Linked DNA regions of Homo sapiens. The protein of the gene in region 3 purifies or fractionates together with the protein of the main gene of each other region. This does not show direct contact. Each region holds a gene or a part of one and is shown on either strand. Other genes may lie near its edges. The genes, in order: YTHDF1, KLHL25, EMID1 and RSPRY1.

Region 1 (7,855 bases), on a different chromosome or scaffold from region 3:
ATTTAATACTTAAAACGGATTTTCAGGAATGTTACATGCCTCATGTAATGTGGATTTTTTCATGTGGTAAGTGATGTCCTGTCTTAGTTAAGGCTTTAGGTGTAAGTCAGAAGTGTCCCTGGGCATCTGTTTCTGTGGCCTGACTCCTCTGGTTGGTGTTGGGGCCAAGTGGATTAGAATACCACACAGCCATCGAGGTCTTTTTTTCCCATCTGCTCTTTTTGCGTGGAAGGAAGATGTGTTGTGATTGCAGCGCTGCTGAGGAGCACGTGTCCAGCTAATGGGAGGAGGAGGGCTGGCTTCCCTGTGGGGGGGACTGTCCCCTTGCCTGCCGTCCTTGAAGGCACCTGCGGCCAGTGACTCGAGGAGCAAGTCCTGTGCACAGACCGCCCCCCTGATTCGCTCACCCCCCCAGTCTGGGCCTGTTGGCCAGGGCAGCACCCGAGGGAAAGGCTGCAGCAAAGGAGCCAGCATCATGGAAACTGTTTTGAGGGAGAATAAGCTCAGATTAATCTCATGTTTGTGGAACACTGATAGCATCCCACTTGTCTTCTTATACCCCCAGAATCTCAAATTTATATTACGGGGAAACAGCAGTTAGTGCATTTTAAAAGATGATTCTGGGGCCAGGCGCTGTGGCTCATGCCTGTAATTCCAGCACTTTGGGAGGCCGAGGCGGGTGGATCACCTGAGGTTGGGAGTTCGAGACCAGCCTGGCAAAGATGATGAAATCCTGTCTCTACTAAAAATACAAAAATTAACCGGGTGTGGTGGTGGGTGTCTGTAATCCCAGCTACTTGGGAGGCTGAGGCATGAGAATCGCTTGAACCTGGGAGGCGGAGGTTGCAGTGAGCTGAGATCGTGCCACTGCACTGCAGCCTGGGCGACAAAGTGAGACTTCGTCCCAAAAAAAAAAGGGGGGGGTTCTGGAATTGTCTGCTCACAAGTGGAGAAGTCAACAGGAAGAAAATTAGAAAATAAATTGGATTTCTGAAGCCCTCAGTATTCTAGGATGGGAGCAGGAGGCAGGAAGTGGTGGCCGGGTCATTGGTTCATTAGTCCACCAGTGTTGGCTGGTGTTGGGGCACTGCCCCCAGGGAGAGCTGCTTGTGGTCACCCCTCCAGTGAAGCAGGCCTGTTTCATTGTCTGGGATCCCACAGTCTCCCTCATTGCCTCAGCTACTTTCCCACCTGGTGTCCCCGACTGGGTGCTGTTATCCTTCATAGTGTAGCCTTTGATGCCAACATGAAAGGTCAATGTGGCAGGGATGAGGTTGTGAGATGAGGTCTGGAGCATATTCTCTTTATGTAGAACCTTCTGGTTACTTGGGGGACTGGGGGGCGGGGAGCGGGAAAACTAAAAATCCAAAAACGGGCGTCACAGACTGGAGAGCCCCGTGTTTTACTTCCGGCTCTGTTTTCTGTAATAGCATCTTGGCACTCTCAGACGATGCGTCTAGGTGGGAGCCTTCTTACCTCACACTGGACCCCGTCTCACCGGCCTGTGTACAGGTGTGTGTGCGCACACACATACAGACACACCTCACACGAAAGTCATTTTAAGGCAGTGTTGGAGGGACCCAATCATGACCAGACCCTTAGTTGAGTCTCTCCAAGGAGATGCCGTCCCAGAACTGCTGACCCTCAGTCTAAATTTGTGCCCTGGGCAGCTCTTCAGAGACCCCTACGATGGGGCACTCAGGCACTCACCTTCTCTAGCAGACCTTTTTGCCTCATGGTTCCGTCACTTTAAAACCACTCTCTGAGGTTCCAGTCACTACACAGACATGTTTTCATAAGGAAGCCCAGGTGAGTTGGCATCCAGAGTGAGGGCTGCTCTGCACCCGGAGCACAGAGTCCACACTTCGGATGCTTTCTCTTGGCTGAGGAGCTGGAGCCAGCCAGGGCCCTCTGTGCAGGGGCCTACTGCAAGAGCCCAACGCTGTGCCCAGGAAATCATGGGAATGTGAACCCCCTTGGACTTAGAGGCAGGGGCCATCTGCTAGGAAGGGTGTGTGGAAGGAGCCTCTGAAGCACCCTTGAAGGATTCTGGGAGAGCTTTGGTCCAGGTATGGGAGAGTGTCCCAGGAGGAATGTCAAGGCCCAGAGGTGGGCGCCCAGGGCCTGCTGAGTAATCAGCGAGCTTGGGGTCTGTTCTCTGGAGCAAACTGCCTCACGGCCCTGCACATCCTGGTTTGCCAATGGAAATATCTCTGCCTTACAAAGCTGTTTCAGTTCCCATGATGCCGTCCGTGTCTGTCATAAGCGTTGTCGTCAGCAGGCAGGGGTTTACTCCTCTACCTCTGGATTCCTTTGCAGGTAAGAGTAGAGGGGGCTGCTACCTTGCCAGTTCTAGAGAGGCATAGCTTCGTCATTTAGCCTGAATTCAGAGCCTTGCCAATGATGCTTCGTATTTTGAGACGGCACCCTGGTTTGTGTTCGTTATTAATTTCTCTGTCTTGATTTGGTTCTCACATTGGCGACTACAGCTTTCTTTCTGGAAGGAGTAGCCCCATGCTGTGCAGGTTTTGTTTTTGCTCCACCTGTGCTTAAGCAAGAGGCGGTTGGCATTCTCAGCATCTCGTGTTGTAGAAGTGGTGTAACTTGTCACGTTTGCTTTTGCAGAGTAACAGTTACCCCTCAATGAGCGACCCCTACCTGTCCAGCTATTACCCGCCGTCCATTGGATTTCCTTACTCCCTCAATGAGGCTCCGTGGTCTACTGCAGGGGACCCTCCGATTCCATACCTCACCACCTACGGACAGCTCAGTAACGGAGACCATCATTTTATGCACGATGCTGTTTTTGGGCAGCCTGGGGGCCTGGGGAACAACATCTATCAGCACAGGTTCAATTTTTTCCCTGAAAACCCTGCGTTCTCAGCATGGGGGACAAGTGGGTCTCAAGGTCAGCAGACCCAGAGCTCCGCGTATGGGAGCAGCTACACCTACCCCCCGAGCTCCCTGGGTGGCACGGTGGTTGATGGGCAGCCAGGCTTTCACAGCGACACCCTCAGCAAGGCCCCCGGGATGAACAGCCTGGAGCAGGGCATGGTTGGCCTGAAGATTGGGGACGTCAGCTCCTCCGCCGTCAAGACGGTGGGCTCTGTCGTCAGCAGCGTGGCACTGACTGGTGTCCTTTCTGGCAACGGTGGGACAAATGTGAACATGCCAGTTTCAAAGCCGACCTCGTGGGCTGCCATTGCCAGCAAGCCTGCAAAACCACAGCCTAAAATGAAAACAAAGAGCGGGCCTGTCATGGGGGGTGGGCTGCCCCCTCCACCCATAAAGCATAACATGGACATTGGCACCTGGGATAACAAGGGGCCTGTGCCGAAGGCCCCAGTCCCCCAGCAGGCACCCTCTCCACAGGCTGCCCCACAGCCCCAGCAGGTGGCTCAGCCTCTCCCAGCACAGCCCCCAGCTTTGGCTCAACCGCAGTATCAGAGCCCTCAGCAGCCACCCCAGACCCGCTGGGTTGCCCCACGCAACAGAAACGCGGCGTTTGGGCAGAGCGGAGGGGCTGGCAGCGATAGCAACTCTCCTGGAAACGTCCAGCCTAATTCTGCCCCCAGCGTCGAATCCCACCCCGTCCTTGAAAAACTGAAGGCTGCTCACAGCTACAACCCGAAAGAGTTTGAGTGGAATCTGAAAAGCGGGCGTGTGTTCATCATCAAGAGCTACTCTGAGGACGACATCCACCGCTCCATTAAGTACTCCATCTGGTGTAGCACAGAGCACGGCAACAAGCGCCTGGACAGCGCCTTCCGCTGCATGAGCAGCAAGGGGCCCGTCTACCTGCTCTTCAGCGTCAATGGGAGTGGGCATTTTTGTGGGGTGGCCGAGATGAAGTCCCCCGTGGACTACGGCACCAGTGCCGGGGTCTGGTCTCAGGACAAGTGGAAGGGGAAGTTTGATGTCCAGTGGATTTTTGTTAAGGATGTACCCAATAACCAGCTCCGGCACATCAGGCTGGAGAATAACGACAACAAACCGGTCACAAACTCCCGGGACACCCAGGAGGTGCCCTTAGAAAAAGCCAAGCAAGTGCTGAAAATTATCAGTTCCTACAAGCACACAACCTCCATCTTCGACGACTTTGCTCACTACGAGAAGCGCCAGGAGGAGGAGGAGGTGGTGCGCAAGGTGAGGCTGGGTGTTGCAGGCAACTGCCATGCAGATGTGTCCTTGGTGCCGTACTTAGACCAGGTGGCCCGGTGGTGAGCAGATGCGGCAGGTCCGCCGAGCTGAGTCTCGTGACAGGCAGCTCCCAGTTGGCCGCAGGTGGGCGGGCCCAGGTCCTGGCAGCCTCGTGGGCTTTCCCTGCGGAGAGTACTGCTAGTAACCAGTGATGGTATTTGGGTAGATGTCACCGAACGACTTTGATCACTTTCCAATTATAATTGAATAATTGGGACCACAGTGTACACATTCTGTTTTTCTGTTACAAAGAATTTGAGGGTAACTTTCTCCTCTCCTTTTTGAATTGTGATACTTTCTGGAACAGTGCTTCCCAGCCTCCGTCCATGAGGAACACTTAGGTGATATTCACGAAGCACTGCGGTGGGCACGTAGGGCATCGAGACCCCACCTGGCCAAGGGCCCTTGCTTCCCAGGGCACTGTCCCTCAGTAGTTGGGAATCTCTGGTCTTTGATCTGGAGGTCGTTGCTTTATTTTTCTTTTAAAAACCCAGTATCCTGCAGTTTTTGGAAACAAACTCACTCCATCTAGGTCGTAAAGAAAATGGTGGTGGTGGGGTAGGTTTGGAATCCAGACATTTTATAATGACAAATATGGATCCTATATCAAAAATTCATTGACTGGGCCTTTTTGAGACAGTCCTGATTTCCTGGGATACTTGTAGCCAAACTCCTGAGTCTGTGCTGTCATGTGATGTCTGACGGGATTGAGTGTGTTTGCTCTTCAGAAGGGCTCAGATGCCCGTAAACTGGCACCAGCAATGGGAAAATGATGATGCTGACATACTTCATAATGCTTCCTTTATTCGAGAGAGTTCATCCTGAGATTCTCTCCTGCTTTTTAAAAAATATCCCTTCCTGAAATGTCAGTTGATAATAGATGGGTTTTCAGTGTTTTTTTCAGTTCTCTATGTTAAAGGAATTATTCACCTGTGAGCACCAAGTGTCCTAATGTATTTTGGGCAGAAAGGCGTGTACATGGCATATATAGGGATGTATAGAGTAGAGCCGCCTGCACTGTCTGCAGTCTTACATTATGCAAGTCCTGAACAACTTGGGGCTTGTAGAACTTTGGAAAAGTATCAGTCCCTCTCTTTTGTGAGAAAAGAAGTGGATGTCATTTATTTCCAGTTACTGAATTCTGAATTAGTTACTGAAATTCTGTGTTTTAGGTCTTTTTTTTTTTTTTAAATGGAGTTTTGCTCTGTTGCCCAGGCTGGAGTGCAGTGGCGCAATCTCGGCTCACTGCAACCTCCACCTCCTGGGTTCGAGTGATTGTCCTGCCTTAGCCTTCCAGGTAGCTGGGATTACAGACAATAGCTCGGATTACAGACTTTTAGGTATAAAATGAATACTGAATTGCTAAAGTTGCAGGGATAATTGCTAATGAAGCTTTAGGTCCTTAGCTGGCTAAACTGGAAGCTGGCTGTGTGTGTGTGCGCGCACAGTTTTTCTTCTTAAATACCGTAATACTTGGGTTTTCATAAAGTGTGCGGACTCCTGACCTGGTTGGTGTTTTTAAAACTCTAGTGTCCTACAACTTGCATTATAAAAACTTGATCTAGATAACTGCTTTTGTGTGTCGGGTTATGGGTTAAGCATCTTGGTAAGCGGCCTGCAGGGTCTGTGGGCATCTGCCTGCAGGCAAGATCCAAGTGTTCCTCAAACCACTGGGTGCTCCAAGGCGAGTCCAACAGAGCCGCTGGTGGAGCATCATTGGAAGGAACTTGGTAACCCTCCCCTAAACTGTTAGCCAAGCTGGAGAACTCTGGGCCCATATGGGTCAGTGTTAACATTAATTCATTTTATTGAAAGTGACAAATGAGAACCTGGTTTGTTAATGTTTGGTGGAATTTCAAATAGCTTTTTTTTTTTTGAGCCAATCTCACCGTCAGCCAGGCTGGAGTGCAGTAGTGCAATTTTGGCTCACTGCAACCTCAACCTCCGAGGTTCAGGCCATTTTCCTGCCTCAGCCTCCCAAGTAGCTGGGATCATAGGCGCCCACCACTGCACCCAGCTAAATTTTGTATTTTTAGTAGAGATAGGGTTTCACCATGTTGGCCAGGCTGGTCTCGATCTCTTGACCTCAAGTGATCTGCCCACCTCAGCCTCCCAAAGTGCTGGGATTACAGGTGTGAGCCACCGTGCCCCGCCTCAAATAGCTTTTTGTTTTTGTTTTTGAGACAGGTCTTTCTCCGTCTGCCGGGCTGGAGTGCAGTGACTTAATCACAGCTTGTTGTAGCCTTGACCTCCTGGGCTCAAGCGGTCTTCCTGCCTCAGCCTCCTGAGTAGCTACAGGCGTGCACCACCACGCCTGGCTAATTTTTGTATTTTTTTGTAGAATCAGTGTCTTGCTATGTTGCCCAGGCTGGTCTTGAACTCCTGGGCTCAAACAGTCTTCCCACCTTGGCTTCACAAAGTGCTGGGATTATAGGAATGAGCCACTGTGCCCGGCGTCAAATATCTTTTAAGCTTATTGGGCAGTGTAGAGAAATGGAAGTGGTCCTTGAGGAGGTCCCCAGACTGGACTTCGCTGCTGGCTCTCCCTGCCTGCGAAGGTGCTCTAGGCCTTGTGCTTAACGGGCTGGGCTAGTGGCTCATCCAGGATTGGAGTCTTAGGTGTCTTGAGGCTGAGACTCTGGGTGTCTAATGCTTTCTCCCTCTGGGTTTCCCATGAAGAGTCAGTGCAGTTTTGTTTTGTTTTTTTTTTTTTTAAGACAGAATCTTGCACTGTTGCCCAGTCTGGAGTGTAGTGGTGTGATCTCGGCTCACTGCAAGCTCTGCCTCCTGGGTTCACACAATTCTCCTGCCTCAGCCTCCCGGGTAGCTGGGACTACAGGCCCTTGCCACCACGCCCAGCGAATTTTTTGTGCTTTTAGTAGAGATGGGGTTTCACCGTGTTAGCCAGGATGGTCTCGATCTCCTGACCTCGTGATCCGCCCGCTTTGGCCTCCCAAAGTGCTGGGATTACAGGCGTGAGCCACTGCGCCCGGCCGAGTCAGTGCAGTTTTAAGAACAAAGTAGTGTGCCGAGGAGAGGGTTGTGCGCCTGTGCTGGTAGAGCCCCCGGGCGGTTTTCTCAAGGTTCTCTCAGGACTTCGAAGAACAGACCCACCTTTTCTTTATCATTTAGAGTTTGGCCCCATTGCTGTAAAGGTCATAAACAAGTTGAGTGTTGAGAAAGTGAAGTAGAGTTAGCATTTTGCAAGATTGCTGTCCAGCTATAAATTTAGAAACATACTGATTTCTTAGGATGGCAGTAGCTTTTATGGCAGCAGAGTCAGACCAAGTCCTGGGTTGATACATTTTTTGGTTTTAAAAAAACCTAGAAACGGCCACTTCTTAGCTTAAAACAGTGAAAGTGGTGAGCGTCCCACACTGTGAGCATTGCTTAGTTCCTCAGACTGACTGTCCTTGCCCTGGCGGCAGGTGCCCCTGACCTGACCCCACTTCGACCTCCAGGCCGGCTCAGCAGAGTGGCTCTTTGACTTTGGAAATTAAGAAAGAGCATAGAGAATCTTAGGCCATAAGCATTTCCTGGATGCTTGTTGAGCATTCCTCAAAAGAACGAGCTGTGCTTCGTCATTTTTTTTTTTTTTGAGAAATTTTATGAGGAATAGTATTTTTTAAAGAGCACATAGTAAACTTTGTAGCTG
Region 2 (8,119 bases), on a different chromosome or scaffold from region 3:
ATTGTTTATGTTCAACATGAGAGTACCAAGGCCTAGCTATGCATGCAGGCCAGCTCCTCCCTGCCAGGGGTTGCCTCTCTCTCTCTCTCTCTCTCTCTCTGTCTCTGTGTGTATGTGTATATACTTTCAGGTGGAAGTAAGTGCCTTGGAGATATGGACTAGGGTGAGGGCCTGCCAGGAGTGGGGAATGTGGCTGCTCAGGGTGGTCAGGAGGGCCTAGGTGGCAAGGTGACATGTGAGCAGAAACCAGAAGGAAGCGGGGAAGGGAAGCATGTGGCCCTCTGAGGGAGCGCAATCCTATAGAGCAACAAGGGCAAGGCCCTGAGTGGGAGTGGGCTTGGCCTGTTTGAGGCCTTGAAAAGGGATCAGTGGGTCTGGAGCAGAGCATGTCAGGGTCAGGAACAGGGAGGTGGGAGTTGAGGTGTGAGAGTGGCCCAGGCCAGACCAGGGCAGGCTTGTGGGCCGATGGTAGGACTCTGGCCTTCACTCTGAGTGAGGTGGGAGCTACTGGTGGATTTCGAGGGGTAGACAGACATAACGAAATTATCTTATAAAAAGATCCCTCTGGCTGCTGTGTTGAGAACAGATTCTATGGGAGCAGTGTGGAAGAGGGAGATGGCCTGGAGGCTGCCATAATGTCACAGAGGAGAGAAAATGACAGTGTCTCTAGACCAGCCTGGGGGTGGCAGTGGAAGTAGTAAGTACTCAGACTCAACAGGGATTTCCTGATGGATTGGACATGGGGTAGGAGAGAATGATGCCAAGTTTTATCTTACAAAAGGAAAGACTGCGTTGTCCTTTCCTGAGATGGGGAAGCCCACAGGGAGAGCAGCCATAGGAGCTCAGCGGAGACAGTTTGAGGGTAAGGTGCCCTAGACATGCACATGGAGATACCCAGTAAGCAGCTGCACCCATGGGCTTGGAGCTTATGGAGAAGGCGGGGTGGGAGCACAGAGTTGGCAGTTGCCAGTGCTTATATGAACGTAAGGCATGGGCTTGGATGAAATCACTTAGAAGGTGTAGGTAGGGAAGGGAATAGGTCTTCTTATCTCCCTATGCTCCCTACGCTCGCTTCCCGGGCGCTCCAATATTTGTAGGTCTGAGAAGTGAGGGGGAATCAGCAGAGGAGACTAAAAAGAACACCTGAGAAGGTAGAAAGGAAACCAAGAGGCCAGGCGCGGTGGCTCACGCCTGCAATCCCAGCACTTTGGGAGGCCAAGGTGGGCAGATCACCTGAAGTCGGGAGTTTGAGACCAGCCTGACCAACATGGAGAAACCCCGTCTCTACTAAAAATACAGAATTAGCCAGGCGTGATGGTGCATGCCTGGTGATCGCAGCTACTCGGGAGGCTGAGGCAGGAGAATCGCTTGAACTCGGGAGGCAGAGGTTGTGGTGAGCTGAGATTGCGCCATTGCACTCCAGCCCGGGCAACAAGAGTGAAACCCCATCTTTAAAAAAAAAAAAGAACCAAGAATTTGATCATCTATTAACGAACATATATTGAATTCTATACATCATCCCAGAATTTCTGAGACTTCAGATTCTGGGCCACCAGGAATACTAGCTAGATGGCAATGCTGGGAGGAAGGTATTGGTAAGGATTGTTGGTGGACAACAGGCATCTATTCCCTCTTCCTTGTTAACAGAACCCTGACTTTGAGGAGGTGATGTACTAACATAAAAGTCTACATTTCCCAGCTGCTCTTGCAGGTAGGAAAACTAAATTCTGTCCATAAACAAAAGTGTTGTGTGGGACTTCTGCAGTCTGCATAAATAGAGCTAACCAGGCTGGAAGACACACATCTCATGCTCTTCCGCCATTATTCCTTCCTACTGTCTGGGATATAGGTGTCAGAGTTGGAGCCCTAGCAGCCATCTTGGACTATGGGGCAACCTTGCAAATGGGAACCAAGCATTACAGATGAAGGAATAAAAATACAGTAGCCCGTGTTTCTGACAACTGTGGAGTTGCCAACAAAGGATAGCTTAACTTTAGCTTTATTTTGCATAAGCAAGAAACTTCTATCTTGTTTCAGTCACAGTTAATTTTGGGTTTTCTGTCATATGCAGTAAAAACTAATTCTAACGGATATGAGATTTATTCACAGTATTTCAAAACTGTGTAGACAACTTTGATGCAGCCCTAAGAGTTCTGAGATGAATTCATGGTCCCTGCCCTCCCAGAGCTCCCTGCACAGCAGGTGGACTAGCTAAGCAGGCCATTACAACACTGGCTGGTAAGGGCTGCGTTGACGGTAATGCTCCAGGGTCCGCAATAGATGGCAAGGCAAACTTCCGCTCTTCCTCTCATCTTCTTTCAAATCGTACCTAAATTCGATTAACTCCACACGTGTTCTTAGTCTGATTTTGTCCCATTGCTTACACTGTATTTGATTTTAATATATTCTAGTACCTAATTTAAGCCTTGGAGTTGAAGAGAGAAAAAATTATAATGTGGACCAGATTTTACTGGGCGGTTGGCACTTATAATTTTACAGCGAACCTGCATAAAATAATAAGCAACAGTTATAAACTTGCCAAGAATCAATTTTGCATGTGGAGCTTCATTCAACCAACAATTCTATAAACACTCTAGTGCTAGAAAATCGGCAGGATAAAACTACAAATGTGATCTCTGTCATTTCCTTAATGAAGTAATTACTTTGATGCTAATGTGTTGGAGCTGGTTCCTTCCGGTGGGTTGGTGGTCTCGCTGACTTCAGGAATGAAGCTGCGGACCTTCACGGTGAGTGTTACAGCTCTTAGAGGTGGCGTGAACCCAAAGAGTGAGCAGCAGAAAAATTTACCGTGGAGAGCGAAAGAACAAAGCCCCCACAGCGCCAAAGGGGACCCAAGTGGGTTGCTGCTCCTGGCTGGGGGGCGGCCAGCTTTTATTAGCTTATTTGTCCAGGCCCATGTGCTGCTGATTGGTCCATTTTACAGAGTGCTGATTGGTCCGTTTTACAAACCTCTAGCTAGCCACAGAGTGCTGATTGGTGCATTTCTACAGAGCACTAATTGGTACATTTTACAAACCTCTAGCTAGATACAGAGCGCTGATTGGTGCATTTTACAATCCTCTTGTAAGACAGAAAAGTTCTCCAAGTCCCCACTGGACCCAGAAAGTCCAGCTGGCTTCACCTCTCACTACCTTTTCTCTTCAGAAGGCACCTTAACAGTGCACTTGGCAAGCTTCTTACCTCTGGCCAATATTGTTCATAAATATCAGAACCCTGGTGCCTTAGATGTCTGCAGATCTGGGCCAAATGGAAGCACAAATCTGTACTGAGCACTTACTACATGCCAGGCCTATTCCATATGTTATCTTAATCTTTCCCATACCCCTGCAAGAAAGGTTTTAGAATCCTCTTCACCAGTAAGAACCAGACACCAGAGAGTCTGAGCCATCTGCTTCAGTCCTACCCAGCTCTTGAGGGGCAGGGCGGGGCTTCAAACCCAGAACATCAAGCTGTTTCCCAAAAATGCCTTCCCTGGTGGTATCTTCTCATCATCTCCCAGTCTTTTAACCCTGGCATATCTGTCCTGTCTAAGCAGCTTTCTACCCAGGGGCTCTATTTCCCAGGTTCCACTAGTCACAATCCTATCCCCTCTCCCAAATCTTTGTACACTTTCTTAGACCTTCCTTGCACCTCCCACCTCCACCTCCGTCAGGGTGACCTCTGCTTCCTGGGAATTTCCCCGCCCCAGGCTTGGCTCTTTCGTTCTTATCACTTTCTATGCTTTACCTTTTGTATCCTTAAGCAACCTACTTGAATTATCGATTTTCATTGGGAGGGAGAAAAGAGAGGACATTTATTGCGCACTCATTTGTCTGGGAATTTGTCTCCTTTAATCCCCCAAATAATCCGATGAGGAGTTTTTATCTGCCGCTTTACGGATGAGATTGGACACACACAGTAAGCTGAAGTAGTAGTCAGGAGGGAAAAGGACGAAGAATCACAAACCGTTCTCCCCCTCCAAGATGAGTGCATGGTGTGGGCGTCCAGGAAACGTTCCTGGAAGAAATTATTGGATGGATGGATGAATGAATGAATGAACGAACATTTAAAGGCTGGCTTACGAAAGGAGTTTAGTGAGAAATGACACAGAGAGGAGAGCTGAAATACTCCAAAAAATACAGATTTCAAGTACAGGTGGGGTTTGGAGGCTGCAGAAAGTCCCAAACATTCAAACAAGCCCAGAGTGAAAGACAGGGTTTCATTAACACTCGGGCAACTACTAGTGTGGCTCTGAAGAGTCTAAAGAGATCTACAACACTTGTGACCCGAACACAAAAGAGGCATATGCAATCTACAGTGCTCCCTCTGGAAAGCTCTAGAACACCGTCGCGTTTTGTTCCCAAACTTGGGCGGCGGGGTTGGGCAGGCGCCTGTCTCTTTAAGAATCTGGTCGAAGTCCTTTTCCTCGCCCCGCCCCGCCCCCGGTCCCCCCCCCTCCCCGCCCCCGGCCCCCCACCCCCCGGTGCCGGCGCGGCCTGGGGCCCACCCCCTTCTTTTCTGCGGCTGCACTGAAGGGTTCGGCTGCCCATCCGTCACAGAGGCGATGCCTCTGATTGGCTGCTGCTCTTCGGGCCGGGAGGCGGGGCGGGAAGGCCGGAGAAACTAGTTTGTTGGCGGCGCCTAGGCTGTATCGCAGCGAGAGCGTTTTTGCCTGTGGAGAGCCGGCCGACGGGAGCCGCGGCGGAGCCTGTTGAGCTCGCGCGGGCTGCCGGGAGTGGTCTCTGAGGCGGCGGCGGCGGCGGGGATCGTCTCCGGCAGTGAGTATCCAGGCCGGGCGGGGACGCCGTGCTCTGGCCGCAGCACCCGCGCCCCCGCTCCCTGCGCTGGGGACTCACCACCCCGGGCCGGGCCGGGACCAAGCGCTCGGAGCCCCCGCGGGACTACGTGTCCCGGGAGGGGGCCCCGCGGCTGGGGCCGGGGCCCTGGGACAATGGTGGGGAGCGGCGGCCGGCCGGCACCCCGCGGCTCCGCGAGGGAATTCGCCGAGAGCTCTGCGCGAGGGAATGAATTGTTTGGCAAATGGATGTTGCGCGCGGGAGCCGCTACTCTTTCCCCAGGGAGTGGTTGATTCATTGAGTCCGCAGACTCTTTTTTTTAAAAAATTACTATTGATCCTGGAAAGAGAGACTGCTTGTCTTTGAGGACGCGAGCGGCGATGCCCCGCGCCTTGGACGCCCAGGCCGGATGGCTGCCTGCCTGGCGCAGAGCGAGGGCCCGGGGTTCACAAGGGGAGGGTTTGCGCGGGCCTGGCCGCGGAGCCCCGAGCCGTTCACGTTCCGCCTGCCAGGGTCCCTCGTTTCGGTTTGCAGAACTGTCCAGCGGCAGAGAAAGGTCGCACTCAAAGGCACACCCACCTGTCCACCTGGGTGGCGGCCAGACTGGCAGGTCCAGAGCAAGCCCTCTAGCCTGACTCTAATTACCACACTTGCCCTGGCTCCGAGACACACCGCGCGATGTTACGCCCCCACTCCCCCTGTCTCTTTCGTAGTTGCTTTAGAAGCTTTTCTCTTGGGGGATTGTGCCCGGGAGATACCAGATACTTTTTTTGTGTTGCTGCTCTAAGCCCCCAAAGTGCATTCCCATTGTCTTTGAACAAAGAAACATCTCTCTAGAGGCCTGACCCAACGAACTGTGGGTGAGGGGGCGGACCCAGGCCCCTGCAGATTTAATCTGGACGCTCTTGGGTCCTGCTGGATCCCGGTGAATTTGACCTTGGGGAAGGCGGGCTGGACTTTGACTCTCCTCGGTAGTCAGGGCAGAGAATGCCAGGTGTCTGGACCATTTGGTTCCACTCTATCGGCCCAATAGAGAGAGGAAGGGAAGGAAGTTAGCAGTAGCACCAGGAGAGGAGGCAGGATTCCACGGTCTGTATCCTGGACCAGATTCCAGTGACCGTTATGGGGCCAAGCCCTCTGGGACCCTGGGTCCCAGTCTCCCCATTCATAGGAGGAACTGATGCTCAGTGTGCTGATCTGAGCTGTGAGGATTCCTGGCATGTTGGTGAAGGCTTGCGTGGGGGTCTGGGGAAGAGTAGGACACAAAGTCTACCCCACCTCAGGGTCCATTTGGTGTCCCAAGACCGGAGGCTCTTGGGTCCACAAGCTGTGCCTGTGAAGGTTGACGTAGTCAGTCTTTTTCCGGCCTGGCAGCTATTTCAGTTTTGAGTCATTTGTCAGGCAGTGACTCCAGGGTGGTTGATAAAAGGGAGGTAGAAATGGAAGACACCTTCATCCTGGGGTCTTGGGCTGCAGTTGGATTTATGTATGTGGTGCGGAGAGAAGAGCTATAGGCAAATTGCATGCTCCACATCGGAAGCAGGTTCTGCAGCCCGATGCCCCTTAATAGCGTTTTAAATCTGCGGGCACCCCGTGTGGGCAGAAGAGAGCAGGAAGAAAAGAGAACAATTACCCAGTGAAAGCAAGCTTGGTTCGTCCCGTCTATCACTTGGGCGGGGGCGGGGGGAAGGGTAGGATGAGTGAGAGTGTTATTTAGTGGGTGGTTTGTGACTGATTGATTGATTGATTCATTGTTTGAACAGACTTGATTGGGCACCTGCTGTGTGCCAGGCCCTGAGTTAGGTGCTGGAGACTCTTCCTTTAGTGAGCACCTAGATGAGGGAGTGCTGGCACATGGATTAGGGGCCCTGACACATCGTAGTGATAGAGGCAGCAAGAGGAGAGAAGGAGACACAGGTGGGCAAGGCTTCCTGGGGAGAGGATGCCTTGACTAAGATGAGAAAGGCATGTCATCGCCCAGATTCGAGGTGTAGGGCAGCCACCTTTGTCCTGTCGCTCACCCACACTTCTCCCAGAGGCCCAATTCATTGCCAGCCTCAAGATAGGCACAGGTTGAGGCCATGGAGAATGCAAGTGGGAGGTGGTAGAAGGTTTGCTCTCGTCCGTAGTGTCTGGCCGCACAGTCAGCAGTCCAGCGCATTTGTAGGAAGCTGGATGGCTTCTGGATGCAGCCTCTCTTCTCTGGGGGTCCTGGGAGAACCTACCCCCTGGTCCCAAAGACCAGCCCATTGTCTGAGCCCCTAGTCCCTCTGTACCACCAGGCAGTGTAGGCATAGCCTGGCCAGTGTGGGCAGAGCTGGCACAAGAAAACAGAGTGGCCAGACACAAATGAATTGGTTGATTGAGATGCTGGTTTTCATCTAATGTGGTAAATTTCATAATTTAATTGCCTCAGCCAGCCAAGGCTGTTGAAGCATTTTCCTCACCAGGAAACACTTAGTTGGAACAAGCTGGGGGTAGAGGAGGGAGGTGCAGGGGAGGAGGGAGGAGGGAGAACTTAAGCATCCACAGCTTTCAGTCACAGCATCCCAACAGGACTTATCAATCAGCAGCTATCCCCAGCTGATGGAAGTCAGCCCAGCCCCTACAGTAGGTTCCAACCCCTTTCCTTGACCACCTCATTGCCATACCAACCTAAAGCTGTCAAAAGCTGACACCTGTCATCTTCAAGGCATAATCATCCCATACTGCCTCCAGGTCCTTCTGGGGCTGTTAGAAACTGGGGAAGGGGTGCTGTGGGATTAGGTGGGGAAGCGAAGGGGTTTGGGGATAGGAAGGGCTCCCTGTTAAGTCCTTTTAACCCAGGAGCAGTGGAAAGAGCATGGGCTTTGGCACCAGACTGGGGTTCAAATGCTGTGGGTCTGTGATCAAGTTCCTTAACCTCATTGAGCTTTGTTAGCTTTTTTCAGGGGTATGGTGAAGGTTAACCACCATACTATGCAGAATCCCCTAGAATGGGGTCTGGCACCAAGTGGGTGTCAGTCATGCCGGGCTCCCCTTTCCCTTTTTTGTTTTTGTTCCCTGGGTGCAGAATTGAGGTTGGGTGCTTGTTGCTCTGCAGCTGACTTGCAGCCCTCCCCTGAGTCCCCAGTCACCTCACCCCCGCCCCCTACCTCTCTTGCCACTCTTTCTTACTGCTAAACCTTTCCTGCTTTCCTTCCAAGCCCTGTCCCAGCACCCTGTTGGATGATAAACGATAGATGTGTGTGGCTTATTAACCTTTTTTTCTTTTGAGAAGGAGTCTCGCTCTGTCGCCCAGGCTGGAGTGCAATGGCGCCATCTTGGTTCACTGCAACTTCTGC
Region 3 (7,944 bases):
CTCCTCTGTCCCCACCACTCTCATTCTCCTCCTGCTTCTCAGCACCACCACTACCTCCCCATTCATCCTGGAGCTGTCAGGTGGGGCGGGCCCACATGCTCATGACCCGGCAGGTGCCACCCGGGACTGGCAGGGCTGGTGGGCTGCTCCAGGGCCTCTGCTCTGAGGGGCTTCTCTGGTCTGCCCTTCCCTCCTGCCAGATCCGTCCAACCACATGGACTCACAGCTGCCACTTCAGATGCATCCAGCCGGGAGTGGGCTTCACCTCGCTGGGGTGGGAGATGGACAGCTTCCCATACAGAAGGTCTTAGGCCACGTTCCTAGGCTGTGGTCACCAAACATTTCCCTCACCAGCCTAGAAGTTCCACTACCAACGATTTAGGGTTTAAATGGCAGGAAGCCCTGTTAACTCCCCCTCCTCCCAACATTAAACATTAAACACATCAGTCATTCACACTCTAGTAGGAATGAGCCAAGAGCTCTTCCCTCTACCCCCTAGTTGGGTGGATGCTGCATATGGAGATACTGTTCATCCATTTTTGCAAGAGGAGATGAAAGAGAAGCAGAGGAAGGGACCTGAGAGAAGGCAAGTAGGGCAGAGGTGGGGGGTCAGAAAGGGGAGGATTTAGGAGAAATTGCCAGAGGAGGGGAAGGGGGAACAAACGTTGCTAAGGAGAAAGCCTCTCATTTGTCCATTCCTGCAGTCAACAAAGCACAGTTGCAGGAAAGTCCCCGAGTCCTCACACCCCCATTTTCCAGATGCAGAAACCGAAGCTCGGAGAGAAGGGACTCTCTAGATCACATAGAACATCCAGGTCTCCTCACTCCAACAAGAGGTACCCTGTCCTGCCATGCTCGCTTATGTCCGGCCCTGTCATTCTGTTGTCGTCCCCCTGTACCCCCCTCAAAGATGCAAAACGGGAGATTCCAGAGGACAGGAAGGCCCTCCCAAGCCCTAATTTATGATTTTCTGACAGCTTCCTTCCTCCCACTACTCCCTTCCAGCCCCAGTCCCAGCTCTCTGGGGAAAGAATGAGCTGGGTGAATGAGAAGGGCAGCTCCATGGAGCATAAATAACTCGGCTGGGCAGCTGCAGGCTGCCTAGGTCTCCCAGCGCCCCGACCCTGGCCCTGCAGGGTGCTTCCATCTCTGAGAGCCAGGGACAGGAGGGCCAAACCCCCTGATCAAAAGTGCAGAGAGCAGCCATTGCTCTTGGGCCCTGTCCTTTGTCTGGTCAGCAGCTTTTAAGGCTGTGGCTTACACGGTCCCTTCCCTTTCATGGTGTCCAGGCACTGCTTGGCAATTAGGCCTGGGCCCCTGGGGGCTGCGGCCATGGGCTCTGGGCACCCCTTGGGCTGCTTCCTCACCTATGGAACAGGCACGATATGGGAAGAGTGCCTGGGCTCACACGAGCTAATGTGTGCACAGGGCTGATATGACGGGGCACACCCAAGCTGGAGAGACAGTCCTGTAGGACACAGCGGGAGGAAAGAGTCCCTTAGCTACGGCCCCCAGAGACTTCACAGGGGAAGGAGGCTGCCGCCCAGGTTGTTTGTTAAGAGGATAAAACATTTCCTGTTTGGACTAGGCCAGGGTGGATGCGTCAGTGAATCTGCCCCAGAGGGGCTGTGTTTCCCGGATCCCATGGCCTGCCCTGGGAGGGTGTCTGTGTGTGTCCCTGTGTGGTCCATCTGGGTGTGGGTCCAGGTCTGGGTATGTGTCCACACATTCTCTCTGGCCTCATCAGCCCCAAGATGGGACTCCAAATGTGAGCCAAGTTATCTCTTACCCCAAAGAAGACCTGCTTCAGGGCTCAGCCAGTGGGTGGCAGTGTGGTCTGGTGGGTAAACTCATAGACAGCTGCCCATCACTCACTAGCCGTGAGCCCCACACCTGGGGACAATAAGGCTTCCTCCTGGGTGGCAGAGAGGATCGCAGCAGACAATACAAGCAAAACGCTTAGCACAGCGCCTGGCGCACAGTCAGCATGGGGAACGGAAGCTGCTGTCGTTACTGGCGGTTGTGGTCTCGTCTTGGCAGTGGAAAGGACCAGGCCCCCAGGGGGGAGGCCCCGCCCGCAGGGACAGGCCCTGAGACCTCAAGCTAGCCGGCCCCTCTCCTCTCAGTTTCAGCAAACATTGAAACCTCAAATAATCAAAACCCCAGGCCCCCACGGCATTTCCTGCCTTTCCACTCAACTAGGAAAGAGGACCAGAAAGCCGGCTGTCATCCAACAGGAAAGTGAGCCCTTAAACGGGGGCTTCAGCTGTGCCCCAGGGCCACTGAAGGGGAGACCTGACGTTTTCACACTTTCCCAGAAGCTCAGACTCTTGAGCCAGAGGGACCTTAAAAGTCCTATGTGGGAGGGTTGCTTGAAGCCAGGAGTTCGAGACCAGCCTGAGCAACAGAGCAAGACCCTGTGTCTACAAAAAATATTAAAAATGAGCCAGATGTGCTGTCATACACCTGTAGTCCTAGCTAATCAGGAGGCTGAGGCAGGAGAATCGCTTGAGCCCAGGAGGTTGAGGCTGCAGTGAGCGGAAATGGCACCACTGCACTCCAGCCTGGGTGACAGTGTGAGACCCTGTCTCAAAAAAAAAAAAAAAAAAAAAAAAAGAAGATCCCATGGCTTGTTTTTTCAGGCAAAGAAATGAAGCTCAGAGAGGGGAAGTGACTTGTCTTGGGTCACACAGCTCCCAGAGGTTGCTCTGGAATTGACACCCTGGCCTATGGGTCACATGGCTTGTGGGGTGTATCCATCAGGCCACACAGCCACAAGGTGATAAATAGTGATAAATAAATCTATATTTATTTATCCGGGTCTACAGTGATAAATAAATACCCTGGACCCGGGAATCCCAGCCTCAGTAAGGACAGGCCCCTCTCTGATGTGAAAATGTTGATAACAGCTTTTACCAGGAGAGTCTCTTGCTGGGGAAATTCTGCAGCGGCCTGAGTCTGCCACAAGTTTGATGGCATTGGTTAAGAAATGTGGATGCCATTAATCGCAGGAGCATCTCAGACATGTTGCAAACAGACCTAGTAGTGCCTCCTCATTCTGTGGCACCCATCTGACACCCTAGACACCTCTCAGTCCCTCCAAGGCATTATCCAGTGCTTCTCCTTCCTAAACAGCTGCATGTTTGAGCTTCCTAAACAGCTCAAAGCACCCCTGGGGTGATGGGTTTTTATCTGGGCCGCTTGATTGGGGTTTCAGACAGGCCTGGCATCCTCTTGGGGGCATGGCTCCTCAGGAGTGACGAATTATCCAGGGTGTTAAGTCACTGATCTAGCTGTGTCAAAAACAAGGGCTAACCAGAGAGGTACAAAGCTGCATTTCTTGGAGGTCAGAGAGATGGCACAGGAGATGTGCCAAAATTTCACGTGAAAAGGAGGGCAACAGCTCCCCAAGGGGGCAACATTGGCACCATGGTGATGTCGCTGGAGGGAGAGGGAGCCCTTGGGGGACTATGTGAAGTAGGGGAGAGTGGGTGACAGGCCATTACCATGATATCTCAATCCTTCCCACACTCCTGTAACGAATGTACAACTGTCCTCCCTGCAAAAGAAACACTGAGGCTGCGAGAGGGGCAAGACTTGCCTGAGCTAACTGGAGCAGAAGTAGCAGAGGCAGGGTTTGAACCCAGCTCTCACTACCTGTCCCTTGGGACAGGGCAACAGCTTTCTCTATGTGGACACACTGGTGATGGATCCCCCGTCCTGCCTGCCTGCCTGCCTATGGTGGCCTATGCTGCCTGCCCCTGGTGAGTCCAGGAGGGGCAATCCAGTGACTGGCAGATCCTTTCTGGGGAGTGTTTCTAGAAGGGACCGTGGGTCTGGACAAGCCATAACAGGAAGTAGCCAAGCTGGGCAAGGGCTTCCCCAGCCCAGGCCTAACTACTGCCCATCGATCCAGGCAGAAGGCGGGGTTAGAGACTGCCCTGGGAGATTGGGGGTCTGGGTCCCCTCTGATGAGAGCTCTGGTCTCTCCCTATAAACACACACTCCTATCACAGACACACACATAACACACATGCACATAAATCCACATCAAGCATGCACACACATCCATCATACACACATACGACACACACATGCACCCCTGCACACACACACTACGCTTACATATACCTTTGTGGGATGTAGAGCCATTCCTCCAGAAGCCCATCCATGTACCCCAGATGAAACCACCCAACACCAATTCTTACCTTGTTACATATGGTGAAATCAAGGCATAGACCGAAGTGCTGTGGTTAAGAGCTGTTACTCTCCGAAGTCAGGCGATCTGGGTACAAATCCTGGCTCTGCCAAACCCCTGCCACGGTGCTTTAGGTAAATGACAGCTCCTTTCTGTGGCTTAGTTTCTCCACCTGTAAAATGAGAATAAGAACAGACTCTGCACTTATGGGGTCAGCCCAGATCTCCTCCTAGGGAGACTGCGAGTGCCTGGGCCTCAGTTTTCTCTTCTGTAAAATGGGGATATTGTGCCCAGTTCGAGCAGAGTGGCTTGAAGAGTCACCTGAGATAGGATGTGAAGTGGCCGCGGTGAGGTGCCCAATACACGTGGCGCGCACTGCTCAGGAAGCTTTCCTTGGAGGGCTGGATCCCGCAAAGGTGTCGAAAAAGGATGAGTCCCGGATATCATTCGCTCAGGTGAGGTGGGTTCGGGTCCCGGCTGCGTCTGGGACCGTGGCCCGGGCCTCAGTTTCCCAGTCTACAGCCCGTGGGAGGACACCTCGGAGCTGGCACCCCGCCCCCAAAAGGGCCCCGCGGCGCAGGGCGTGGGGCTCAGGTGGACACCTGGCGGGCCTCCTGGCGGGGGCGCCCTGGCCGCCCGGGCCCCTCCGGGCTCCTTCCGGGTTGGCAGCGGCGGCGCAGGGGGCGGGGGGCAGCGCAGAGGGGCCGGGCGAGGCCGGGAGCGCGCGCCCCCGCCCCCGCCCGCCCGCCTCCTGCCCGCCCTCCGGCCGCGGAGCTGGAAACCGGGCTCCGCGCGTCCGGGGCGGCTGGCGGCGCGGGCAGGCAGGCGGGGAGGACAGGCTGGGGGCGGCGACCGCGAGGGGCCGCGCGCGGAGGGCGCCTGGTGCAGCATGGGCGGCCCGCGGGCTTGGGCGCTGCTCTGCCTCGGGCTCCTGCTCCCGGGAGGCGGCGCTGCGTGGAGCATCGGGGCAGCTCCGTTCTCCGGACGCAGGTAAGAGCTCCCGGCGCCTTTGCACCCCGCTGGCCGAGGGTCCCGGCGCGCACACGCCCCCACCTCCAGGAAGGGCTGGGATTGGAGGGCGATCCAGTCCCCAGCCCGGGTGAGGGCAGGGACACGGCCATCCCGCGGTCCGGCTGAGGCTCCCGCGAGTGCGGGGTCCCCTACTCCATGTGTCGGAGCTGGCTGCCTCCCCTACTCCCTCCCTTTCAACCCAGGAGCTCGAGAGGAGGGGGAAGGGGCGCAACGAGGGCGAAGCCCTGGCCCTTCTGTTCCCCTGTCCCTAGGGCCCCTCCCCCTGCACTTGGGAAAGGCCTATGACACCCCCTAGCCGACTCTTCTCGGACCCTCTCTCCCCTTTTCCCTGTTCCTGTTTTTTTGCTTTGTTTTGTTTTTTGTTTGTTTGTTTTGTACCCAGGCTATTTATCTCCCTCGGAGGAGGGACTGGGGTGGAGTCTCACAGCCCAGTGGGTCAGTGTCGGAGATACCCCAGGGACCTGGCATTTTGGACAGAGAAAAGAGGGAGCACAGTCTTCCTTCTGCTCTCCTAGCGGCGGGGAACCTCCTCCCTGCTGGCCTTTACGGAGGAGCTCCCAGAACCTGACATGGTGGGGCCCATTATTATATATAGTGTCCTCATCAATCCTTGAAGGACCGAATGAGGTAGGGAAAACTGTCCCCATTCAACGGTTAAGCAAACTGAGACCCTAGGGAATTGGCATCATCTTTTAGCCTCATGGGCTATTCACTGAAGAGCTAGGTTGCAAATCTGCCCTTCTATCCTTGATGACAGTGTTTGAACCTGTCCTGGCCTCTGTCCTGGCTGCAGCCCCAGCGAGGGTCCCCTCCTAAAGGCCAGCCGCCGTTGTCCAAGGCAGACAATGTGGAGTAGCCAGGCCTCTCCAGGCCTTTTCATCCCATTCAAAGGCCTGCGCGGCCCCCACCCCCTACGGCCTCAATTCTTTAATTCTTTTCAGAAATTCTCCTTTCCCAGTGGTCAGGGGCCAGCATGCCCCTGCTGGGCTAGCAAGAGCAGTTGACATGGGCAGGGCTGGAGGACGGAGGTGGTTGAAGCATCAGAGGCCAGAAGAGCAGTTGTCTGAGACAGGGGTGGACGTGTGGCAGATGTTACAGCCACCACCTATTGTGTGCAGACAACAGTTAGCCTGAGTCGGCTCCGTTACCTGCATTCATCAGCTCCAGAATCCTCCCAGCTGCTTGGAGGTATGCTCTTTATGATTCTGTTTCATAGAGGAGGAAGATGAGGCTCAGAGAGGGAACATGACCTGCCCAGAGCATGGAAGTGAGCCGCCAGGATCCCAGATGCTAAGAGGACAGAGACTATGAACTCAGAAATCCCACTGTTAGGCTCAGGATGATGGTGGCGACAGCTTAAGGCCCAGACCGCCCTGCAGCCAGTTCAAGGCAGGGCTTCCCAGCCTGGGCTCCTCACCTCCCAGGGTCTCCTGGGTGGGAACAGGATGATGGCTATAACCAGGTATCTGGTGGTCACTGGGGACTGTCACTCCATGTGTTGACAGAAGCCTATCACAGTAGCCTGAGCATCCCAAAAACCCTGTGGGCAACACTATTGCACCCATTGTACAGATACGGAGGCTGAGGCCTACAGAGGACAAGTGGCACCTCAGTCCAGACCAGTCGATTTCCAAATCCAGTGGCTTTTTCTCTCCAGCAGCCTTGCTGGAAGAGGGAAAGAGGTTGTCGGCTTGGGGGCACCAGGAAAGGTTTGCAGTCATGATTAGGAGTTAGGGGCTCCAGCCTTGGACAGAATGGAGACAGAATTCCTTGCTCTTACAGGCTTGATGTGTGACCTCAAGTGGGTCACTTCCTGGCCATGGGTCTCAGTTTTGCTCTCAGTTTCCTTCTTTCCTCGTGGGAAGGACCAGCACCGGGCCTCACCTGCAGTGGTTCCTGCTATCAATCATGTCACATGGGGGTAGGGACCTGGAGCTTGAGGAGTCTGTGGGCTACCAGAACCTCCACTTGTGGCCCCATCCCCACGTTGCTGGAGACAGCATGGGGGTGTCATGCCCTGTCAGCCTTCCTGCCACCCACACCCCAGCACCCCAGGCACCCCTTGGCAGCCAAGGGACCAGACGCAGAAAAGAGGCTTTGTCCTGGGGAGGGGGTGGCCTGGGAAGGCATCCAGGGGGCCGCCCCTTGCCCCAGGAAGGTGGTGACACTTGGAGACCCCCGGAACCAGGGTGCCCAAGGGCTATGCAGAGCTGCCTTGGCTTGCCCCTGCCCCTGGGGCTGCTTCCTGCCCCGCTGAGGTCCTTCTAAGCCTGGAGTCTGCTTCCTTTAACCACTCATCTCAGCGTTTCAGCTGAGGGTTCAAGCCTTCACCAGCCCAGATCTCTCGCCCCTGCAGCACCGGCTTCCTTCCGGCAAATCCTAGGATCAGGGAGAATGGAGGGCTCTAAAATGGAGGGGATCTGCCCCAGCCTCTGTCTAGGGGGCTGCAATCCCAGCTGATGCCCACAGGGGTGACCTGGGTAGGTGCTTTCTCTTGGAGCCTGTTTCCCCCTCTGTAAAATGCAGAACCTGATAATCCCTATTCCAAGGGGAAGACCTTGTGAAGAAGGTACTGTGCTGGTGTCCCCAATCCCCAGGGAAGCCCCTGGACCAAGCTGCTGGGTGTGGGGCCCATGTCTGGGCCTGAGCCCCTCAGTCCCGGAACAGGAATGAACAATAGCTGTTAGCGCTGTGCTAAGGGATTTGAGTGAAGC
Region 4 (7,855 bases), on a different chromosome or scaffold from region 3:
AGGTATACCAGCATACTCTATGTGGGCTTCTGCTTTTGTCAGCAAAATAACTTTTCATTTAGTAAGTATCAAAGGGAAATAAAAACTTAGCATTTTGTATAATAGTGTGTTAATCTGTAGTGAATCAGGTAAAAACAACAAATCTGAGTTATGTAGCACTGTGGGGCCTGGAGGCTAAAAAAAAAAAAAGTGTGTTTTGTCAAGAGTTTAACAAACAATTATTCTGTATTTCTTTTTTTCTGTTTTTTCTTTTTCTTTTCTTTTCTTTTTTTTTTTTTTTTGAGACAGGGTCTCATGCTGTCTCTCAGGCTAGAGTGCAGTGGTGCAATCACGGCTCACAGAAGCCTCTACCTCCCAGGCTCAGGTGATCCTCCCACATCAGCCTCCCAAGTAACTGGGACTACAGGTGCGAGCCACCACACCTGGCCAATTTTTGCACTTTTTTTAAGACAGGGTTACGCCATGTTGCCCAGGCTGGTCTCAAACTCCTGGGCACAAGCCATCCACCCACCTTGGCCTCCCAAGGTGCTAGGATTACAGGTGTGAGCCACCATGCCTGGCCTCGTGAGCTTAATTTAGTCTGTTGAGAATTGTATATGCTTTCCTTAACAATGAAGTAATTTGTTCTAATGAAGTGGGAAATCCCTTTGCATCTTTTTAAATACAGCTTTCTTTCACACTCTATATAGTTTGGAGAAAATGTTAGGAATTCTTGAAGGTAGTAATCACTATTACACTACTTAAGATTGGAAGTTATGGCTGGGCATGGTGGCTCACACCTATAATCACAACACTTTGGGCGGCCAAGGCGGGAGGATCACTTGAGCCCAGGAGTTCAAGACCAGCCTGGGCAACATGGCAAAACCCCATCTCTACAAAAAAATACAAAAATTAGCCCAGCGTGGTGGCACATGCAGATAGTCCCAGCTACTTGGGAGGCTGAGGTGGTAGAATCTCTTGAGCCTGGGAGGTTGAAGATGCAGTGAGCCACTGCATTCCAGCCTGGGTGACAGAGCAACACCCTGTCTCAAATAAATAAATAGGAAATGTTCTGTATTTTTTAGTAGGATACTTGTAAAGTGGGGTGTGATAGTCTCAGGATTGCAAAATAAGTGGAAAGTCAGTAGTCACCACAAATGGGAAACACAGTGGAACCAGCAATCTATTTCAAAAGAATTATTTGGGGATAATAAACTATGGATTTAGCTTCTCTTCAAGCTTTTGGCATTTTCAAGGCAGTTATCATTGAATTTGGGTAGTTTTTTCCCTGATATTCAAATTAGAAAATTGAAAAGCAGAATAATCACGAAGTAGTAAATGCCGTAACTTGGGCAACAGCCTTTTGGAGGGGACTTTTACAACTTTTAGAAGTGCAAAGGAGTGAATATTTCCCTTTGGTTTATCATTCAGTAAGTCAGCTTTTGAAATCCTTTTCTTGCCAACCTTTGTGAGTAGAGAAAACATACAAATGTGTCCATTCCAAAAGGGAGTGGTTGCTGGTTAAATATGTAAAAGTAGTAACTTTAGATAAATGTGTGGTATATACAAGGTTAAATCAGGAAAAGTTATCTTATAAATAGTGGTGGCCTCTTAGAGAACATTCCGCTTTGTTTCTGAGCTTTTGAAAACTGAGAATACATTTGAAATAGTAAGGAATTTATGTACTCCTTAAATTTGTTAAGGAATGAACTCTGCACATAGCTTTCTTGTTGCTTGAAATTATAGTTTCCAGGCGTAATTTCATAGGTCCTATGTACCTCAAATAGAAGGTTTGAAATACCTTACTCAGCAAGTATATTACCTCATAGTTTAATGTTCAGTGTTAGTTTTTTCTTACCCCTCTACCTCCTGAAGAATTGTTTTCGCTCTTGTGTTCCCTTAATGCAGTGATTCTCAAGATGTGGTTTCTGCCCAGTCCCTCCACATGGGAAATATAGCACTGTTTGTTTGTTTTTTTAAGTTTTTATTGCTTCATAGTTGTTCATACTTAGGTATGCCTAAGGGCTACTTATTAATAACCTACCAAGTGAATTACTAAGGATTACTAAAACATGGTATTCATAACCTAAAACTAGAACAATATTGGAGTTTACTGTGGTCTCTTAATACTTTTTTCGCCCAGGAAGTCTGTCCTGGGAAACCTGGCACCAATACAAGCTTCTCACATGTCATATGCAGAATGGGGATTCCTGCAGTATTCAGGAAGTATGCTTAGTTTGGGGTGCATCATCTGAATTGTCTCAAAATAATGTCAGTTTTCATCATGATTCCTCTTTTTTTATTAGAATTTTTATTTAACTTCATCTTTATCAATTTAATTTATAGGTTTTTTTGTTTACTTTTCATTGTGTGGGCAGGAATATTTATACCAACAATATTTTGGCTTATAATGTAAGACATAAATGTGTTACAATGCAAAGATAGATTCTCTAGTCCCCTTTTGCTATTGCTGATTTGTATAGTCACCTAAAAACTTGCTCACACAGAGGTACTTCAGTGTTACCAAAGTTCCTTTTACACTGGAAAACTGATGGAACAAGAGGCCTCCTTCTAGTAGATGCTTTATCTGTAGTCTTTGGGTAGGGAGCTAAGTTTGTCCCTAACCCCAGCTCCCTTTGTCAGGAGCATGAGGGACCTTTTTCCGTCTTTCCTCACTGCCTGCCATATAAGCATTGGATATATAGTTATTGAATGGTGTTGTCTCAGTTTTTCAAAATGGTAAATATTTTGGAGAGACTTTATGTTACAGATTTTAGAATAAATTCACCTAAGATATTTATTGAATACATATTAGGGTCTAATAAGTATCCAAATGAGTATGCAGTATGAGTGTTTTAGACATCATTTAAAGTAGACATCATTAAGGAAAATGTTGATATTCATGCTGCTTATATATTTTATTTGCTTTTCTTAAGAGCAGAGAGTTTTCTGTAATAGAAAAATCCTTTTCCTTCAGATTTGTGTATATTTGAATAACACATGATCTCCTATTATTTGGCCTCCTGGGGGGAAAACCACAAGTACTACGGAATATTACATTTGTTTTTCTTCCCTGTACTGCAACCGTCATAAGCATTTACCTCAATTCTTCCTTAGTATTTTTTGGGAGTCCAAGGCAAATTTTTCAATCCTTAAGATTTCAGGCAGGGATTATTTACTTCCCCTTTTTTACTATTATTTGCTTCCGGAAATTCCTTACTCTATCCTAGGCCTAAATTTTATTTTTTAGTAAATTATTTGAATGCTGAAAGGATTTGTCTTTTCTCCTTTGTACCATTTTAGGTCAGGACTATATTCTGTAATTCTTTCTGACCACAGATGCACTGCTACTAGGTTAAAAAAGCTCTCAACTTTTTAGAGGAAGGTTTTTCCAGAGACTCTTTTTTTTTTTTTTTTTTTTAAGGTCTCACTCTGTCTCCTAGGCTGAAGTGCAGTGGTGCGATCATGGTTTACTGCAGCCTCGACCTCCCCAGCTCAGGCGATCCTCCCACCCCTCACTCCCACTGCCCTTCCCAGTAGCTGGACTATAGGGTCCAAGCCGCCACTCTGGCTAATTTGTGTATTTTTTGTAGAAACAGGGTTTCGCCATGTTGCCCAGGCTGGTCTCAAATTCTTGGGCTCAAGCTGTCTGCCTGCCTTGGCCTCCCAGAGTGTTGGGATTACAGGTGTGAGCCACCATGCCCTGCTCAGATAGTCTTTCAACCAGAAAAAAATACCTACTTTCAAAGGTGTGCTTTCTTAAAGATCCTCAGTGCATAAGGGAAATGTCAGAATCATCCAGTGCTTTTCCCAGACTTCTTGACAGTTACAGTTCAGGAGTTAATGGTACTCTGTGTGACCTAAACCTACGGTTAGATAGCTTTGGACATCTGGGAGGCAAGTAAAAACGCCTCATCAAGACAACCTTTCTTTTTGTGGGAAAAGTAAAATTCCAACCAAATATTTCACAATCTACCCCCTTCTTACCTTCCCCAATGAAATACCAGAGGCTTTAGAGTCTAAAGACAGAAACACTCTTGTTGAAACATCTTTAGGTAGTTTCTGTTTCAGCTGGCAAGTGTAATCTTCATGCATTACCAAATCAGTATTGTTGACTTGAGATTTTCCCTATTTAAACACAATCTTCAGTAAGAAGATTGTGGTCTTTGGGGTGTTCTGCAGGCTTTTTTTTTTTTTTCTTTGGAGACAGAGTCTTGCTCTGTCACCCAGGCTTGAGGGTAGTGGGATGATCTCGGCTCACTGCAACCTCCACCTTCTGGATTCAAGTGATCTTCCCACCTCAGCCTCCCAAGTAGCTGGAATTACAGGCACACGCCACTGTGCCTGGCTAATTTTTGTATTTTTTTAAGCAAATATGTTTCTAGATAATGTTCTCTATCTTGATAGGGTTTGAGTCACAGGTATATGCATTTGATAAAACTCAGCACGTTACTGTGCTTAAGATTTGCACATTTCAGCCGGGTGCGGTGGCTCACGCCTGTAATCCCAGCACTTTGGGAGGCCGAGGTGGACAGATCATTTGAGGTCAGGAGTTTGAGACCAGCCTAGCCCACATGGTGAAACCCCATCTCTACTGAAAACACAAACATTAGCTGGGTGTGGTGGCATGTGCCAATAATCCCAGCTACTCAGGAGGCTGAGGCAGGAGAATTACTTGAACCCGGGAGACAGAGTTTGTGGTAAACTGGGATCACACCAGTGCACTCCATCCTGGGCAACAGAATGAGATTCCGTTTAAAAAAAAAAAAGATTTGCACATTTCAGTGTATGTAAATTCGACTCCTAAAAACTTGAAGTTTATTGAAGTCTAATTAGTGATATGCATGCTGAATTATTTAAGAGAAAGTATACTGATGCCTATAGTTTACTTTGAAATATGTAAAAAAAACTGAATGGATTAATGATGGATAAGAGATGGATAGCGATAAAGCAAGTTTAGTAAAATGTTAGTAGTAGAGTCTAGGTGGTGGGGATAAAGCAAGTTTAGTAAAATGTTAGTAGTAGAATCTAGGTGGTGGGTATATAGTTCACAGTTTACAGTGAACTCTAATTCAATTTTCTGTATGTTTGGAAAATTTCATAATAAAATATTGGGAGTGGGGAGTAAATGTGATGATAGAAGCTATCTCTTTAACACACTTAGGGAAAAATCCGAAAACATTTTCTAATGAGAGAACATCATTAAAATTTTCAGGATGTTACACATTTTGCTATTCATGCTATTTGACTTAGCCTTTGTGGGGGAGGGTTGGAAAAAAAGTCACATCCTCTAACACTATTTTGGAATGATAAGGTGAAGATTATAACAATAGTAATTTAGTGCCCAAAGTCTGGTTTTTCTTCTTTATGGTCACTCTTGTAATCAGCTTTTCCTTCCTAGGCAGTGTAATTCTGCAGTCCTATTTTCAAAGAAAAGAAAGTGTTCTTTCTCACTGATCTGTACTATGGCTGAATGCAAGCAAATATTTGAAGAGATGAATCATTGATTCCTGGACCATTTGTCAGAGAGGGTTAGACTAGTTGGCCAGATGTCTCCATGGTGAGCTGTTTATGATGGTAGAGGTCTGTGTTTTATAAAGACAGTGAGTACCAGAACCTTACTGCTTTAACACCAAGCTTACCAAGACCCTAAGTTTGATTATTTTTTTTTGTCTCAGAGCAGCTTTAAAAAAATATAAAGCGTTAGGTGCTTCATTTACCCCCAAGAAAAATGAAAAAACATGTAAAATGTAAAAATCTAATAAATAATATAGAAATGGAGAGAATAGTCTTTAGTTTCTTTTTTAAAAAGGCAAGAATCAAAATTAATAATACCACACTTCAGAGAAATAGATTTGCAAAGGAAATATTCGATCATAATTATGCTCTTGCAGCAAAATTGTTATCGAGAGTATAATATTAGGCTGGGCATGGTGGCTCACACCTGTAATCCCAGCACTTTGGGAGGCCGAGGTGGGCAGATCACCTGAGATCAGGAGTTCAAGACCAGCCTGGTGAACATGGTGAAACCCCATCTCTACTAAATGTACAAAAATGAGCCAGGCGTGGTGGCAGGCACCTGTAATCCCAGCTATTCGGGTGGCCGAGGCAGGAGAATCGCCTGAACCGGGGAGATGGAGGTTGCAGTGAGCCAAGATCACACCATTACACTCCAGTCTGGGCAATGAGAGTGGAACTCCGTCTGAAAAAATAAAAATAAAAAAGTATAATCATATTAAAAGTATTGCCACTTAGGTGGTAAGAAGAGTCCTTCTACTAAGCACTGGCATCCAGTGATAAAAATTATTAAATCAGTTGATGTTTGTCACAGATGTGTATTTAAATTGTGTGACTAGCTTTTTTTTTTTTTGTCTCAAAGTTGACTTCACCAGCTAATGTTGTCTTTGAAGTTAAGGTAAAGAATATAGGTATTGGCCAGGCACGGTGGCTCACACCTGTAATCCCAGCACTTTGGGAGGCTGAAGTGGGTGGATCATGAGGTCAGGAGTTCAAGACCAGCCTGGCCAACATATTGAAACCCCGTCTTTACTAAAAATACAAAAAATTAGCTGAGCGTGGTGGCACGCACCTGTAGTCCTGGCTACTCGGGAGGCTGAGGTAGGCGAATCACTTGAACCCAGGAGATAGAGGTTGCAGTGAGCCGAGATCTCACCACTGGACTCCAGCCTGGCGACAGAGTGAGACTTCATCTCAAAAAAAAAAAAAAATATATATATATATATATAGGTATTACAGATGTGTTGCCTTTATATAATCTCATCTTACTCATTTTCTATTCCGTTCAGTCTCTTAACCCTTGATGATATCCTTAAGCAGCGTATCATTTAGGTTCATTTTGATGCTTCGTAAGATGGACCTCATGGGAAATATATGGAGCCATTTTTTCCTTTGTGTTGATATGTACTGTACATGTCACTTATGGATATAACCATTCTAATGGCTTTTTAGGCTGACCTCTCCAAAAGACTGCATTCAAAGATAGTCTCAGTTCATTTTACTGGACAAGGAAATTAACATTTTTGACCCAAGAAGAAATGCCCTTTAGTATTTCAGTTTGCCCCCTAGTTCAGTCGGTGTGTCCTTCCTGCTGTGCCAGGTTCTGTGGTAGGTTCTATACACAGTGATTTCCAAATGTGGCTGCCATCAGAGTCACTTGGGGAGCTTTTAAGAAAACACAAGCTTGGGCCGGCATCCCAGAAATTCTGATTCTGGCTATTCGTAGTGGGACCAGGGATTTGCATTTTAATAAGTACTCTAAGTGATTCTAATGCCGTCTATGGGATGATCAAGCTACAATCCCTCCCAAGATTCTCTGTCTGAAAATATAGGTAAGTATAGGTTATAGAAAAGTAAAAATTACTTCAGTACGGGGTAGTTCTGTAAAAGATAAATTCTTTACTTTTCTTAGTGCTTTTAACTCAAGTTTTACTCCAGAATCCCTCTCCCCCAGGTAATTTAGTTATTTCTGATTAGATATGTGCTCATTTTGTAACATCTTGCATTTTTTTGATCCAGTTTAAATGTTAGGCACTGTGCCATGCGTATTACATGCATTATTTCATTTAATCCCCACAGTGGTACTGTGAGATAAGAACTGTTACTATGTCTGTTTTTTAACATGTGTCAAGAGTCAGGTTAATTAGGACGTGTATCAGTAAATATTGCAGGGCTGGGACTTTCACCTAGTCTGACAACAGAGTGTGTACTGTGCTATGGTGGCTTCTGGTATTGTGTGTAAAATCTGTAAGCTCAGTTTTATTGTCTTAAAGCAGTGGTCCTTGGAAAGTGGGCCACGTAAAGCTTTTTTTGAATGGATGAAACAAAAAATTGTCTAAAGTGTAATTGATTAGCTTTC

The links.
Region 1: the proteins of EMID1 (region 3) and YTHDF1 purify together in Homo sapiens (affinity purification with mass spectrometry; 3 studies listed by BioGRID and IntAct, with this or other methods). This does not show direct contact.
Region 2: the proteins of EMID1 (region 3) and KLHL25 purify together in Homo sapiens (affinity purification with mass spectrometry; 4 studies listed by BioGRID and IntAct, with this or other methods). This does not show direct contact.
Region 4: the proteins of EMID1 (region 3) and RSPRY1 purify together in Homo sapiens (co-immunoprecipitation; 2 studies listed by BioGRID and IntAct, with this or other methods). This does not show direct contact.

What each region holds. Positions count from the first base shown.
Region 1 is NC_000020.11:63,198,578-63,206,432, reverse strand, and holds part of YTHDF1 (YTH domain-containing family protein 1), read left to right. Parts: intron 1-2,625; coding exon 2,626-4,146; intron 4,147-7,855.
Region 2 is NC_000015.10:85,791,425-85,799,543, reverse strand, and holds the start of KLHL25 (kelch-like protein 25), read left to right. Parts: upstream 1-4,618; 5' UTR 4,619-4,778; intron 4,779-4,860; exon of another isoform or gene 4,861-8,119. UniProt on the Homo sapiens protein: Substrate-specific adapter of a BCR (BTB-CUL3-RBX1) E3 ubiquitin ligase complex involved in various processes, such as translation homeostasis and lipid synthesis.
Region 3 is NC_000022.11:29,200,952-29,208,895, forward strand, and holds the start of EMID1 (EMI domain-containing protein 1 isoform 1 precursor), read left to right. Parts: upstream 1-4,944; 5' UTR 4,945-5,087; coding exon 5,088-5,188; intron 5,189-7,944.
Region 4 is NC_000016.10:57,189,329-57,197,183, forward strand, and holds part of RSPRY1 (RING finger and SPRY domain-containing protein 1 isoform 1 precursor), read left to right. Parts: intron 1-6,730; exon of another isoform or gene 6,731-7,328; intron 7,329-7,855.